3 separate regions of the Homo sapiens genome follow, and regions 1 and 2 are each reported to be linked to region 3. Evidence: microRNA targets listed by miRTarBase, many of them from high-throughput screens and not tested one by one. Region 3 holds a microRNA gene; each other region holds the end of a gene's coding sequence.
Evidence for each region. The annotated mature microRNA hsa-miR-7852-3p reads UAUGUAGUAGUCAAAGGCAUUU and lies in region 3 at 2,155-2,176, opposite strand. An mRNA with a match to its seed (bases 2 to 7 or 8) in the 3' UTR can be bound and repressed. Matches are read on the target gene's strand: a 7mer-m8 pairs with bases 2 to 8, a 7mer-A1 pairs with bases 2 to 7 and ends in A, and an 8mer does both.

Region 1: the mRNA of DCUN1D1 is a reported target of hsa-miR-7852-3p. Seed matches in the 3' UTR shown: 8mer at 2,755-2,762 and 7mer-m8 at 676-682.
Region 2: miRTarBase lists RDX as a target of hsa-miR-7852-3p. Seed matches in the 3' UTR shown: 7mer-m8 at 1,715-1,721.

The regions. Positions count from the first base shown.
Region 1 is chr3:182,941,543-182,945,909 of GRCh38, forward strand. It overlaps DCUN1D1 (defective in cullin neddylation 1 domain containing 1), which reads right to left. Exons shown (of 7, transcript NM_020640.4): 7 at 1-3,631. The coding sequence ends at 3,552. Among named protein-coding and RNA genes, the nearest start is that of DCUN1D1, 37 kb to the right of the region's middle.
Region 2 is chr11:110,228,233-110,232,599 of GRCh38, reverse strand. RDX (radixin) reads left to right here. Exons shown (of 14, transcript NM_002906.4): 14 at 567-3,159. The coding sequence ends at 731. Among named protein-coding and RNA genes, the nearest start is that of RDX, 66 kb to the left of the region's middle.
Region 3 is chr1:107,895,458-107,899,457 of GRCh38, reverse strand. MIR7852 (microRNA 7852) reads right to left here and starts at 2,235; the gene lies at 2,154-2,235. The region is part of intron 1 of VAV3 (vav guanine nucleotide exchange factor 3); the gene reads left to right.

The DNA.
Region 1 (4,367 bases), not on the chromosome of region 3:
ATGTTAAATAGTTCACATTTAAAAAAACATTTTATCATTACATTATCAAATTTGATAAAATCTTATGAAAACATCTAAGTATTCAATATAAATCATACTGTTAAAAGTATAAGGTAACATTAAAACTGCTGAGGTGCCAGATAAGTATTTTCTGTTAAATATACACAATTTAACATTTAAAACTACATAAATTAATTCTTGCTAAAAGTTGATTCAGTTTTACAAAGGCATACTTTGTGAACCATGGTGAATTTCCCCAGCACCACTTTTTTATTCCAAAACTCCTTCGATTAGGTTTAACTTTCTCCTGTCATTCATATGTGAAAATTACAGAAGGTTTACAATACGTAGTCTTAATAGTAACATGTTTAAAAACCTAAGCAAAGTGTACATTAAGTTAGCTACTACTACTCACTTCTTGATTATCATCAAATAAAAAATAAATGAACACTTCATTCATTTAAGTCTGAGGAAAAAATAGTGTACCTTGCTTAAATAAGAATTCCCCAGTAAAGATATTACGTAAAGGATTTCTCATGTTATTTTGTTGAGTAAATTTACTTTCTCTCATTAAAACTTTTTAAAAGTCTAAGGAAGGACATGTACTTATAATGCCATATTATGCAAGTACAGTATTGTTAATAAAGCAGCCCAGTATAGTTGTAAACATCTTAAATGTAGTAAACAAGACTTGGCATGTCTTTTCTCCCCAAAACATGCCATTACAATGCTCTTTCCATGAATAATTATTCTTCCTAGAAAAGTTTTCAGGTATATTTTAAATCTATAAAAAAAATACACTGAAATATGTGAAAAGATTTAGTCATGGCAATTTCACTGCAGCTTTTATTGCCTCTGTTGGTAATATGACAGGGACTGTAAGAAACACAATTGAACTTACAGAGATATGCAGATGATATTCACTAAAGATAATCTTCATCTCAAGTATTTTTTATATGTGGGCACTTCTAATTTTATACATTTTTCTATTTAAAAAGCATTACATTTTAAAATTTGTACCTGTTTTGACATTTGGCAAAAAGGAAACTGTACCTATGGTTCAGTTTAAAACAAAGAATCAGCATGGGGAGTTTACCGGAATGAGGACTGAAACACTTAGGAGTTAAAGCAATTCAAGGGGCGTGTGTGTGTCTCTCCCTTTCTCTGTCAATCTCTCTCACTCTCTCTGGCTCTCTCACAGACACAGACTCAAACACACACAGCCATATGTGTAATCATTTTTTAGTACAAAATATTCCCTGTAGCCAGACATTTATCTTCAGAATAATCACACCACATTAAATCAGTCTTCTCTTTTCAGCCCTAGTAAAAGTTTTGTTTAATTCTAAGATGCCATCATAGTGAACAACCTTAACTTTTATGCTACATAATTATATTCAAAGCTTTATGTATTTTTGTTTATAATTACACAGTAATTATAAATGTTTAGTACCAACCTGATGACAAACACTATTTTGTTGAAAAGGTTTTGCATTTAAAAAGAAAAATATGTAAAATCCAAGGCACTAGGCCACGAACCAATATGACTTTTAAAGAAAACACTTTATATTGAAAAAAAAAAAAAAAAAAAAAAGCTAATGGGATCTCATTTCAAAACACAGCATATGTGAATTAATCAATCTGAAACCAATAACCATAACTCAAAATCTTCAAGACAGGAAACAAAACAGTACATATATATAGATATATAGATATATATATCTTTTAAAAATTTTTCATAATTGAAGTTCCTCTTTATATTTACAAAAAAATCAGGAAATACTGAAAGCAGCAAGATTCTTCTTTTTCCTTTTTCTTTTAATAACCAATTCCAGTAGCCTGAATAGAAATTTTCAAATTTTTCTTTTGGTAAAACTGCATTCTTGAATTAAAGTTATGATTGGAATATTAATATGTCTATAGGGAAAGCTTTCTAGTCTATTTCAAAATCATGTAAAAAGCAGTTTTGATATGTCATTGTTTCTTAAAATAATTTCCATATTTGCATAAAATGTACTGCTATTCTAAGTACATTCCTTTGTTAATATCAACCCTAGACCTTAGAGAGTGCCTGGATATATATCCCAAGCAGAATCTATTCCTATCAAAAGACCATAATCATCAAACATTTGAAGTATTACATTTCTAGCCTGCCTTACGGAAATGTTTAAGAAAGCAAGAAACCCTTCTTCACATGTCAGTAAGTGAACAGGGAAATGACCATTTTCAGCATAAAAGCAGCTCATGGGGCTTGTAATGAAAAAAATACATACAAGATAGCATTCTGCTTTGATGAGAAAACTGAGCTAATCTGAGTGAAACGAAAACAGTAAAGAGACTAGAAGCCAGATTGGTATTTTGCATCGTGTATGCTTGTTTGAAAATCTTTGCTCCTGAAGTAAATATTTGGCAACCACAGTGATTAGCAGTTAAAGCAATTTCAACAAAATAATAAGTCATCGAAAATGGACTATTTGTCTGAAAGAGCAGTACCTATATTATAAAGATTGAACTTCATGGCTCATTACAACCATTTTCAAAATTTAACTGCAACTATCTTCTTATAAATTAAGAGAATTCCATTTGTGTTCCATAGTGCGATGACAAAAAAAAAGTAAAAACAAAACAAAAAAACCCTCATGCCTAAATTTAGAATATTGTATTGTGTAGCAATCCAAAACATTCAAAACAAATTAAATAGTTTAACTTATGTGACAGGCAGATAAGCATTTCAAAAGCATAATGAAGTCCAATTATGTAGTGCATAATGTAGACAGGAGAAGAATCTAACATTATGCAGACATTTTCTAAATAAAAGCTCCCTGTAGGACAGCTATATATAAACATGGGTAAGGTAAGCGCAGACTAGTTCTGTGGAACCTTTTGAAATCAAGAGTCTAAAACACAATACATTTTTCAGGTAGGCACCAAGTTATCCTAAAAAATTTTCATGTCGGTTATTCTGACATTGTTTTTTCATCAGATACTCACATCAACAACACATGTGATTTGCCAGGAAAAAAAAAAAATTCCCCCCAAACCAAAACACCATTCCAGATCCAGTACACTTAAATATATCACTCTCACTGGAAGTGCTATTAGCATAGTCTTTGCAACTAGCCCAAAGCGTATATTTAAGAAGTTTTTATAAATTGTTTTGTGATGTTCATATGTTTAATTCTTATGCCAACTGTTTTCTGATGAAGACAGCATTGTGCTTTATGCGAGAATGAAAACCTCAAAATAATCACCATAAAGCTTCTAAGACTTATGGGAGAATAAACTAGGATGGTCCACAGATATAAGATGAAATCCACAATGTTGGAATTATAAATGTTTAGAGCGGCCCAGACTAGAAGACAAGCCCAAACCACCATTAGAAGAATGAAATACGATATGGTCCAAGATGTATCCTTAAAGTTTTGTCTCAACCCTCAGTCTGAATTGTGAGGATTGATCTTCAGTTCAGTCCAGCCAGCAGAAATTGACTGTGCAATTTTCTGTTGTATTTATTGTACAGACTATGTACATTCTAGAAGGTTCCTTTAGTGCTACACTGTTGTACTTTTTGTCCCAGCAATTTGAGGGCGTGCAAATTCCACAAAGTCATCAATAAGAACAGGCCATGCTCCTGGAAAAAAGAAAAAATATGAAAGAAAGAGAAGGGGGAAAAAAGCAGAAATAAGGCTAACATTTTAGTAGAATCCTTTTTTTAAGACTTCCTCATAAGCGTTAAAGTATATCATTCTTATCTATTCCCACTGATTAAGTCTTTCAAAACTCAAACTTTTTGGAGTTTTTACCCCAAATATTCCTTGTATTCCTTGTGATTTATTACTCCAACATTTGGTTGTTCCTTGAGTGATAAAAGTAACTTGTCTGGCAACTCATCAATAATATGATTTTCTCAAGGCCACTGCAGTCAGCCAATGGAAGTAATTTGGTCAAAACTGGCAGCCTGAGGCAGGAGAATGGTGTGAACCCGGGAGGCGGAGCTTGCAGTGAGATCGCGCCACTGCACTCCAGCCTGGGGGACAGAGCGAGACTCCCTCTCAAAACAAACAAACAAACAAACAAAAAACTGGCAGCCTAAGGAGCAGCTATGAAATGATAGCATGCTGCCAGTGCTGAAGGCATAGGAGGAGAAACAAGTTTTCAAGCATTCTGTGGCCATCTCACAAAGGAGATTAACAGGAAGTGTCAAATTCCATCCTATTTCATGCTAATACGTTACTAAAAGGTGTAAAATTGCATATATGCATGCCTCTACACATTCACATGCCCATCACCAAGTCAGAAAGCTCTCCATTTTTGTGTAAAACCTACCAGAAGACACAATTATTAGGTATATGCAGGATTAAACATTT
Region 2 (4,367 bases), not on the chromosome of region 3:
GATAGTTAATATACTATGTTTAAGACATTACATAATCTTAATTATTTGTTGAGATTTTATATTGGCAAAAGGTCAGTATATTACATGGACATAACTAGGTCAAAGTAGAGGATTTTAATATTATGAGCTTTCTTTTTTCCCAATAAGTTATCTAATATTTTAATTGTTAAAATCTTTAAATATTAAAAGAAAATGAGGTGATAGTTACAATAAATGTATTAAGACTTTTGGAGAAGGCTTCCCTTGAGGTATAGATTTTAAATCTCATAGTAATATTAGTCTGTAATGGCTACATTGAACTTTTTAGCCATTTCAAGTATTAGATTAGAAAGTTAAGGAAATTTAGAATAATGTACAAAATACCATGGTTGATAAATGTGGAAAGGCCATGTGTATTCCTCCCTTACCACTGCCACCACTATTACTAAAACAAACTTATACCTAAAGAAAAAGGTTTCACAGTGGAAATGATTTGGTATATGTATTTTTGCATCTTAAAGCCATTTTCATAAATTTTTTTAAATCTAAGAAAAAAATAATAGTTGTACTTTTTATTTTTTAAATAGGCATTAAGTTCAGAATTAGCCCAAGCCAGAGATGAAACCAAGAAAACACAAAATGATGTTCTTCATGCTGAGAATGTTAAAGCAGGCCGTGATAAGTACAAGACTCTGCGACAGATTCGACAAGGCAATACAAAGCAGCGTATCGATGAGTTTGAAGCAATGTGAGAGCTGTTATTTTGCATATATGTTCTTCATAAGCTGAACCACCAACAGAGAAAAGCAGGCCTTTGCAGATATGATGGAATGCATCCCACCTTGCCAAAGCACTTACACCAGTTTGACTGTGCTAGCTAAAAGACAAATTTAAGGGGAGCTCTTCAACATTAAGGCAGTATGATATCATGCTTGGTTTTCTTTTTTCTTTTGGTCCAGGGAATGGAGAATGGTGTTCCATTGCCTCTTTTCACATTTTTTTTCTTTTTCTTTTTTTTTTCTGTTGAAGATTAACACTAATTATCACGTCTGACAAATGTGTATGTGTGGTTTCAGTTCTGTGTACATTTTAAAGGATAATGGTGAACATTTTAATGGGTTTCCCTTGCCCTTTCCATATTTAACCTATTTCCACATTCTCTCTCACTCACATTTTCTCAGTGTGCCCTTCTCTTATCTGCCATGTCCATAGCCATAATTCCACCATCATACAGATCAGGCAGTGTTTAAAATGATGGTAGGTAGCACAGTGGACAGTCTTTGATCATCATGTAGAATATGGCTATGAATCAGGAAAGAGATTAGAACATTTAATAATGTATGTACAGCTGGTGCTTAGTTTTTTTTTAATCTAAATTTAATTACCTTATTGGATATTTGATATTTGGTTATTTAATCACAGTCATCTTTAACAGCTTACACTGATTGGTGTTTTATCTCCTGTGATCCTTTGATGGCTTTTTTTGCCTACCATTTCACAGAGGTTTAGACAGCAGTAGTAGCTCCCTAGGAGAGTTTACTGATGAAACAGCCTCTGCAAGATTTTAAAAGTTTTGTTCTTTTATAGACTGATTTAGAAAAACAAATGATTAGTTAAAAAAAGAAAATATACATTTGTTGGTAACTAATGTTATTTTTTAAAACCTGGACCTTTTCTGGAAGGGCAGCATATAAAAACATCAGTCCCGAGGAGGGGACAACAATACTACCTCACTACTACATCTGTGATGACTGGTTGTTCAAACACAATGGAGTGTGTAAGGTATATGTTTTATAATTCATAACCATAGCCTCGATCATCAAGAAATACTTTCGAAATTTCATTTTCCTTCAGAATATCTTAAGAGTGCTAAATTTTTAACTGCCTTTTTGTCGAGTCAAACTGTGGGATTCTGATTTGTATTAAAATTGTAAGCTCCTCACTGGTATACTATCATCCTGGAGGGGTGTTGTATGGCTGAGCAAGAGAGAGAGAGAATGAGAGAGAGACTGTGTGTGTGTGTGTGTGTGTGTGTGTGTGTACTCTGTGTGTGTATGAGAGAGAGAAATGCTAACCTTGTAGCATGTGAAGAATGTCTGTACCTTGATACGATAGTTACATAATCAGTATATTTGGTTTCTAGATCACTGTGCTTATTTTGTTTCAATCTCTGACTAAAAATACTTAAATTTGGTTTGTTAATTCTTATTTTAGAAATTATAATTTTAGTTTATATTAATTTCGGTTATAGCTTACTGAAGAAATCTTTCCAGTTAGAAGGAGGTTCTAATATTCACATGTTCTAATACTTTGTTTATTGTAAAACAGCTAAATTTGGAGATACGTAAAGCCTTGTTTTCTCTGTGTGGTTCAGCTACTTTCCATTTGGTATTACACAGTCAAATTTACATTTATCTATTAAAATTGCCATTTTATTAAACATTTTCATGCACAGTAGATTCAAGTTGTGTCTGAAAATATCTCTTGTGCTTTTTTGATTTTGCTGACTTTAAAAGGATTAATCTGGGCAGACATTATGTAAAAGAAAGGTTGCGTTTAATATATTTTTTGAACTTTGTAGGACAAAACATAGCTGGTTAACCTTGAAGTGACTGTTGTACCATGGTTGTGCACATGCTTCAGAATCCTATGGAAGAGAATATTCCTACTTGCAGTACATCAAAGGAATGGATGGTGGACCCTACTATTCATGTTTTGAGACATAAATGTTCACTTTAAAGCAATTGCATAATAGATAAAAACCTGAACTTTCATTGGATTTTTGTTAATTTTCCTCATTTTGAATTATGTGCACTACCATAGCTACATCAGTTTGATACAGTATTGAAAAATTATCAGTTATATTTTGCTGTTTATGATCTATTTGTAGATTAGGATTAAAATGGATTTAATCCATTTTTAAGGCTGTGTGAATTTTTCTAAACAAGAACCATTTGCAATATGGATTTCTTAGAGATTAAACCAATTATAACTTATTAGCAGTCGCGAGCACATGTTCATATAGTCAATGTAAAAATACACTAATGAGTATTTGGTAAATCCCAGTAGGCTTTTACCATTAGCATAATTTTGTGTTGTACAATTAAGTTACAATTACATCTCTAATTTTGGATAATATTCATTGGTTAACAATAAAGTGACAAAAGCTCATGCCTTCAAGGTCCACTGTTGTTATTTAACATGGATTTTTTGTATGTTTCTTGAAAATTACAATCTTTATCACAGCCATGAATCACCACAACTTAAAAGTAAGAAGTAGATAGGAAATAATTTTAAATCCTCATAGATCTACTCTTTCCCCGATACCTCTTTGGTATGGAAGTAATAGTGATTAATTCTGTGGAAAAGTTAAATTATTAAATTAAATTGACTTTGTTGACAACAAAACGTAATTTAGGGTTTCCAGTCATTGCCTTTATTGTATAGTGGTTAGTTTCTTTTTCCTGAGGAAGATACAGTTTCTTGTCATTGATTGATCTCACTATTAACATTTCAACATTCTTTAAAGAACTGTATGCTAAGTATATTTATGTAAGTACATGTTCTTATTTTGAAGCTGTATTATAGAACAGTTACTATAAATCTAGAAATTGCCTTTTTCAAGTCTTCTTACTAATTTTTAACTTAAATAAGTGATAAATCTATAAAAATAGTAAAAGCTAGATTTTTTTGTTGATAGTAATATTTAACTGTCACTTTATTATTTCTGTTCTCAAGGACACATAGTGATTTTTTTACTCTGATCCTGTCAGAAAATGGAATTTTAAATAATATTTTGCTTTATGTCTAATTAGAGTTTTAAGAACTGGAATGGCCCCTTATAAAGTTATGTTAGATTTTATTGGAAGTCACTCTTATCATTAGAAGTGTTTCAATATTATTGTGTTTTTTTTTAAAATCCCACTGTATTCTGTCCCAGTATTGATCACCGTGTTGATTATTAATGTTTTTAGAAATGAAAATAATTTTTTAAATTCACAGGCATCCCATTTTACATATGCACAATAAAAACAATTAGTCTTAAAAGTTAAAGCTGGAAACTAAAGTCTAAGGGATTACTAACTTTAGCATTAACATACTGAACTAATGAGTAAACCAAAGCTTAGATACCATTAGTAAGAATAAGAGAAAACAGTTCAGTGTGGAGCTGTACTGTTAGGTTCCTCTCTTAAGTCTGTTCTAAATGAACAGAACTTTAGCATTTTCTTAGTTTGTACCACTTCCATTTTTTTAACCTATCAAATATTCTAATGTGGTCTGTCAGATGGAATGACAGTATTCTAGCTCATACAAAAGCTCTTTGGATTCTGCAAATGTGTTTGATAACTTTATGAAATATTCAGGCAGCCTGACCCCCCACAGTCTAC
Region 3 (4,000 bases):
TATTATTTATTCCTGCTTCTCTTTGCTAGTGGGCTGTAAGGTCGTTGAACATGAGGGACCACATCTTATTCAGCACCTTGCGCAGAACCTAATAAGTGCTCAAAAATGACATGCAGTGAATGAGATGATTGGATGGCCGCTTACCGCTGTTGGCTCAGCCCAGACATTTTTTTATTAATATATCTCTATGACTGTGCCCTTGACACTCTCTTCTATATTTCTAGATGCTTAGTAAAAGAAATAGATACTTTCATAATTTATTTTTAGGAAATAATAACTGCATTGTGAAAAAAGTCATCTAGGAAACTTTTCTGCCCCCACCCTTGTAGGTAGGACAACCATTTTTATTCTTTGTGCCCTCTCAGAACCACATACATACTTTCATCATCTTCATCATATACTTGAACCATTTATTGAACTCATTTGTTTGTTTTTCTAATGTATAGTAAGCTTTTGGAGAGAAGGCATTGCATCTAGTTCATCTCTACATCCTTAGTACTCAGAGGGTATTTGTTGACAAATGGACTGAGTGTATCCCTTTCTTAGACTGAGACATTATTATTTTTTTAGAATGAAGAACCTTCCCATTACTTAAAATACTTTGTTTTTAAATGGAACTACATTGCTTAGAATAGTTTAAAAGATGTTTTGTTTTTTATGTTCATGTATAGTATATAATCTGTTGCATGAATATTTTACTTACATATTTTATGGGATATGTGTTTTCAGTAGATATATTTTTATAGGAGATACATTTTTAAATACCTACAAAAATCCCAGTACTGTGAAGTATCTGTGTCATTAAGTGTAATAAAACATATTACAGTAACAGTAATCTGCTGAATGCTTCCTATTACCCTGCAGGGACCCTAGAGATTGAAAGCTTTATTTTGGAAAAGTCATCTTTATGGTAATAATGTAAATGGATGTATTAAGTAACAGAGCACTTATAAAGAGATCCTTGTCTAAAGGCTTGGTATGTAGGGCAGAAAACCATGCTTCACTCAGAAGGCCACTGGCTGTGGTGGAAACTTGCTGTTTCTTCATGGAGTTGATAACAAATATTTTTTCATGTTATTTTTTCTCACATTTATTTTTCAAAGTAAAAACATTTATTTTTCATATTTGTAGAATTCTTCTATTTATAAAAGTAATTTCTACTTATGAAGAGAGCAGAAATAAGAGGAACTCTCACTACCCAGAAATAACCATTGTTAAATTTGTTGTGTGTAATTCCCTACATGTATACATGCATTATATATATGTATTCACGTGATGATACTCGTTCCCCCATATTTTCCAAAATGAGGTCATAGAACAGGTGCTGAGTTTTGATCTGCTTCCTTTTTTTTTTAATTTAATAATGACATTCTTTGCCCAAAGGAGTAATAAAACCTATTTTTATCTAAAATCTCTGGAGAACAAAACATTTTACCTAATAGTTTTCAAGTTAGGTAAGGGTTTTCATACTCATATTTTAAACTTTTTAGCTTTTCATAAAAAATCTTTTAAGATGTGGCACACTCTAGTGGTTATGAGACTTTGGGTTTTATTGAACAGTGTAGGGAAAAGAGCAAGAGGGGATTTTAGAAAGTAAGGTACAGCAATAAAATTTCATAAAATATGTCTTAATGTGTACTATCCCTTTCATTTCATAAAGGAGAGGACCGATTCTAGCACCATACATGAAGGAAGAGTATAATCTCAGAATGCCAGGCTGCCATTCAGGAAGTACCAGCATGCTGTCTCAGATAAGCGGTTCTGAGGAACTGCAGTCTATGGTTTATGCACTTACTGAGTTACCGTGGTGTCATGGGCAGGGTGAATGCACCTGAGGTGGTGCAGGACGCCAAATAGTGTAACTAGAAGTCCCAGAGGAGGCTAAAGCCTTCTTGACTAAACTGCGACCCTGGTGCTGTGTGGGTAGCTCCTTTCCTGCCTCACTTCCTCCTTTTCCTTCCCTCGTGGCATTCTCAGCTTTCCATATGCCCTTTCTGGGTCCTGGTTGCTCCTGTTCCCTCCCCTGTTGCTCCTGATACTCACCTCTTCTTGTCTTTTCTCTCTTTCTCCCTCTACTTTTTCAATTCTCATGGTTTTCTCTGTAGAGAAAAGCTGATCTTTTAAGACACAGTGGTCTTTTTGTATGAAGTATGTAAATGCCTTTGACTACTACATACATATGCCTACATATGAAAGTAGTAGTAGGCATATGTATGTAGTAGTCAAAGGCATTTATTAATTTAGTTGTTCAATATATATTTACTGCTGTGTCTCTAGGCAACAGAGATGCAAGGCCAAGCCAAACCTCCTCCCTTGGGAATTCTCAGGACAGTGGCAGTTACTTTGGGTCTTTAGCACTTATGGCAGGTGTCAGTGCTGCTCCGGCTCCTTGTGTTGCCATCTGGGTACTGTTTAAACCTTATTGTGGACTGTGGATTTCTTTGGGTGAAAGTCTGTTTTTCTCACCCTTCTATCTGTTGAGTGCTGTGCAGTGTCTTGTACAGAATAGATTTATTTTCCTGTCTATTTCTGGAGAGGGGCTTTTTTTGAAGATCTGATCAATGATTGGAGTCAAACTCTTTAGTCCCACATGTGATCCATTGTAAACTAACTGGCAAATGTTTCATATTTCCCCTCTAATACATAACAAAAACAGTTTAAGTCTGAAAAGTGGTATAAATGGAACGGAACATGACATTCCTGTAGCCATTTTTTTAATACAGATTATATCCCTGATTAATAACAAAATTGCCAGTCTTTTTAAATATAAAATTACAACAACCATATAGAATCACACACCTCCAACCTCTGCTGATCTTGATCTTAGTACATGAGGCTTGGGTTGCGATTAGATTTATTGTGGCAGGAGGTTTTGTGTTTGAGGAACTAAAGGACTTTCTAGTAAACATAGATGCAGGAGAGCAAATTTGTGAGTAAATACCTTAAAGTCTTTATATAAGTTTTTTGTAGTTAAAGTCACTAACACAGAACAATAATAACAGTACAATAAATACAGAGAATGTACGTGGCATTTTAGATATCAAGTTGGTAATAATGGCTGCTGTGCGATTAATTTGATGAAAGAGGACAGTGATGATCCTGATTGGAAGATTGATAGCTCTTGGGTGGGGTGGGGATGGGGAGAGGCACTCCACTTGCTTTTCTTAAGGACTTGCTCAAAGTAAGTCTGTGTCTCTAAGTGGAGAGCTTTATCAATTGATTTCTTTTTAACATTTGATATATGTCCAGTATGTTCTGCCAAATGCAGGTTGCCAACCAGTAAGTTACAGAAATGGCTCCATGGTTCTGCAGTGCTCTGGCTGCCTAAATTGAACATTATGTATCTGTGTTGTTCTGATGGAATTAGAATCCTGCAGGTGCTTGTGGCCATGGGAGAAAGTGTGTGGCAGCACCTCTGGCACGGAGAGTTACTTCCTGCAAGAAGTCCAAGCTGAAAATGGATCCCCGCTGGGCCACATTTCTGGTGCCACTTCATTGAGCACTTTCTGTGTAGCAGCAGTTTCCTGGTGTTACTGCTGAATTGTTTCAGGGGTAATTTCCTGTGAGTTCAGTATGCATAGTAACAATAAAGAATTTTCATATTGCTATGTGATTAATGTTTATTAAGTATAAAATTTCACAGTTGTGTAAAAATATGCAAAATTTATAACTAATTCATTTTTGAGCAAGGACACATGATTGGGGTGGGATTACTATTTAATAAAAATGCTACTCTATTATTTATTGTAAGTCTTTTACAAGTGTACAGAAATCAGTGACGTGGCCAATAATACCAGTTTTTCTTTCCTGTGTCACTGGGTAGTCTAAAGGCATAGTGAGGTGTTTAGTAACTTCATAGTTTAGTAACTGTGAAGCCAGGCTGCCTCAGTTTGAATCCTACCTCCTCTAACTATTGGCTGTATGACATTGGGCAACTATTTAACATCTCTCTACCTCTGTTTCCTCATCTGTAAAATGGGGGTAGCTGTGAGAACTGGAT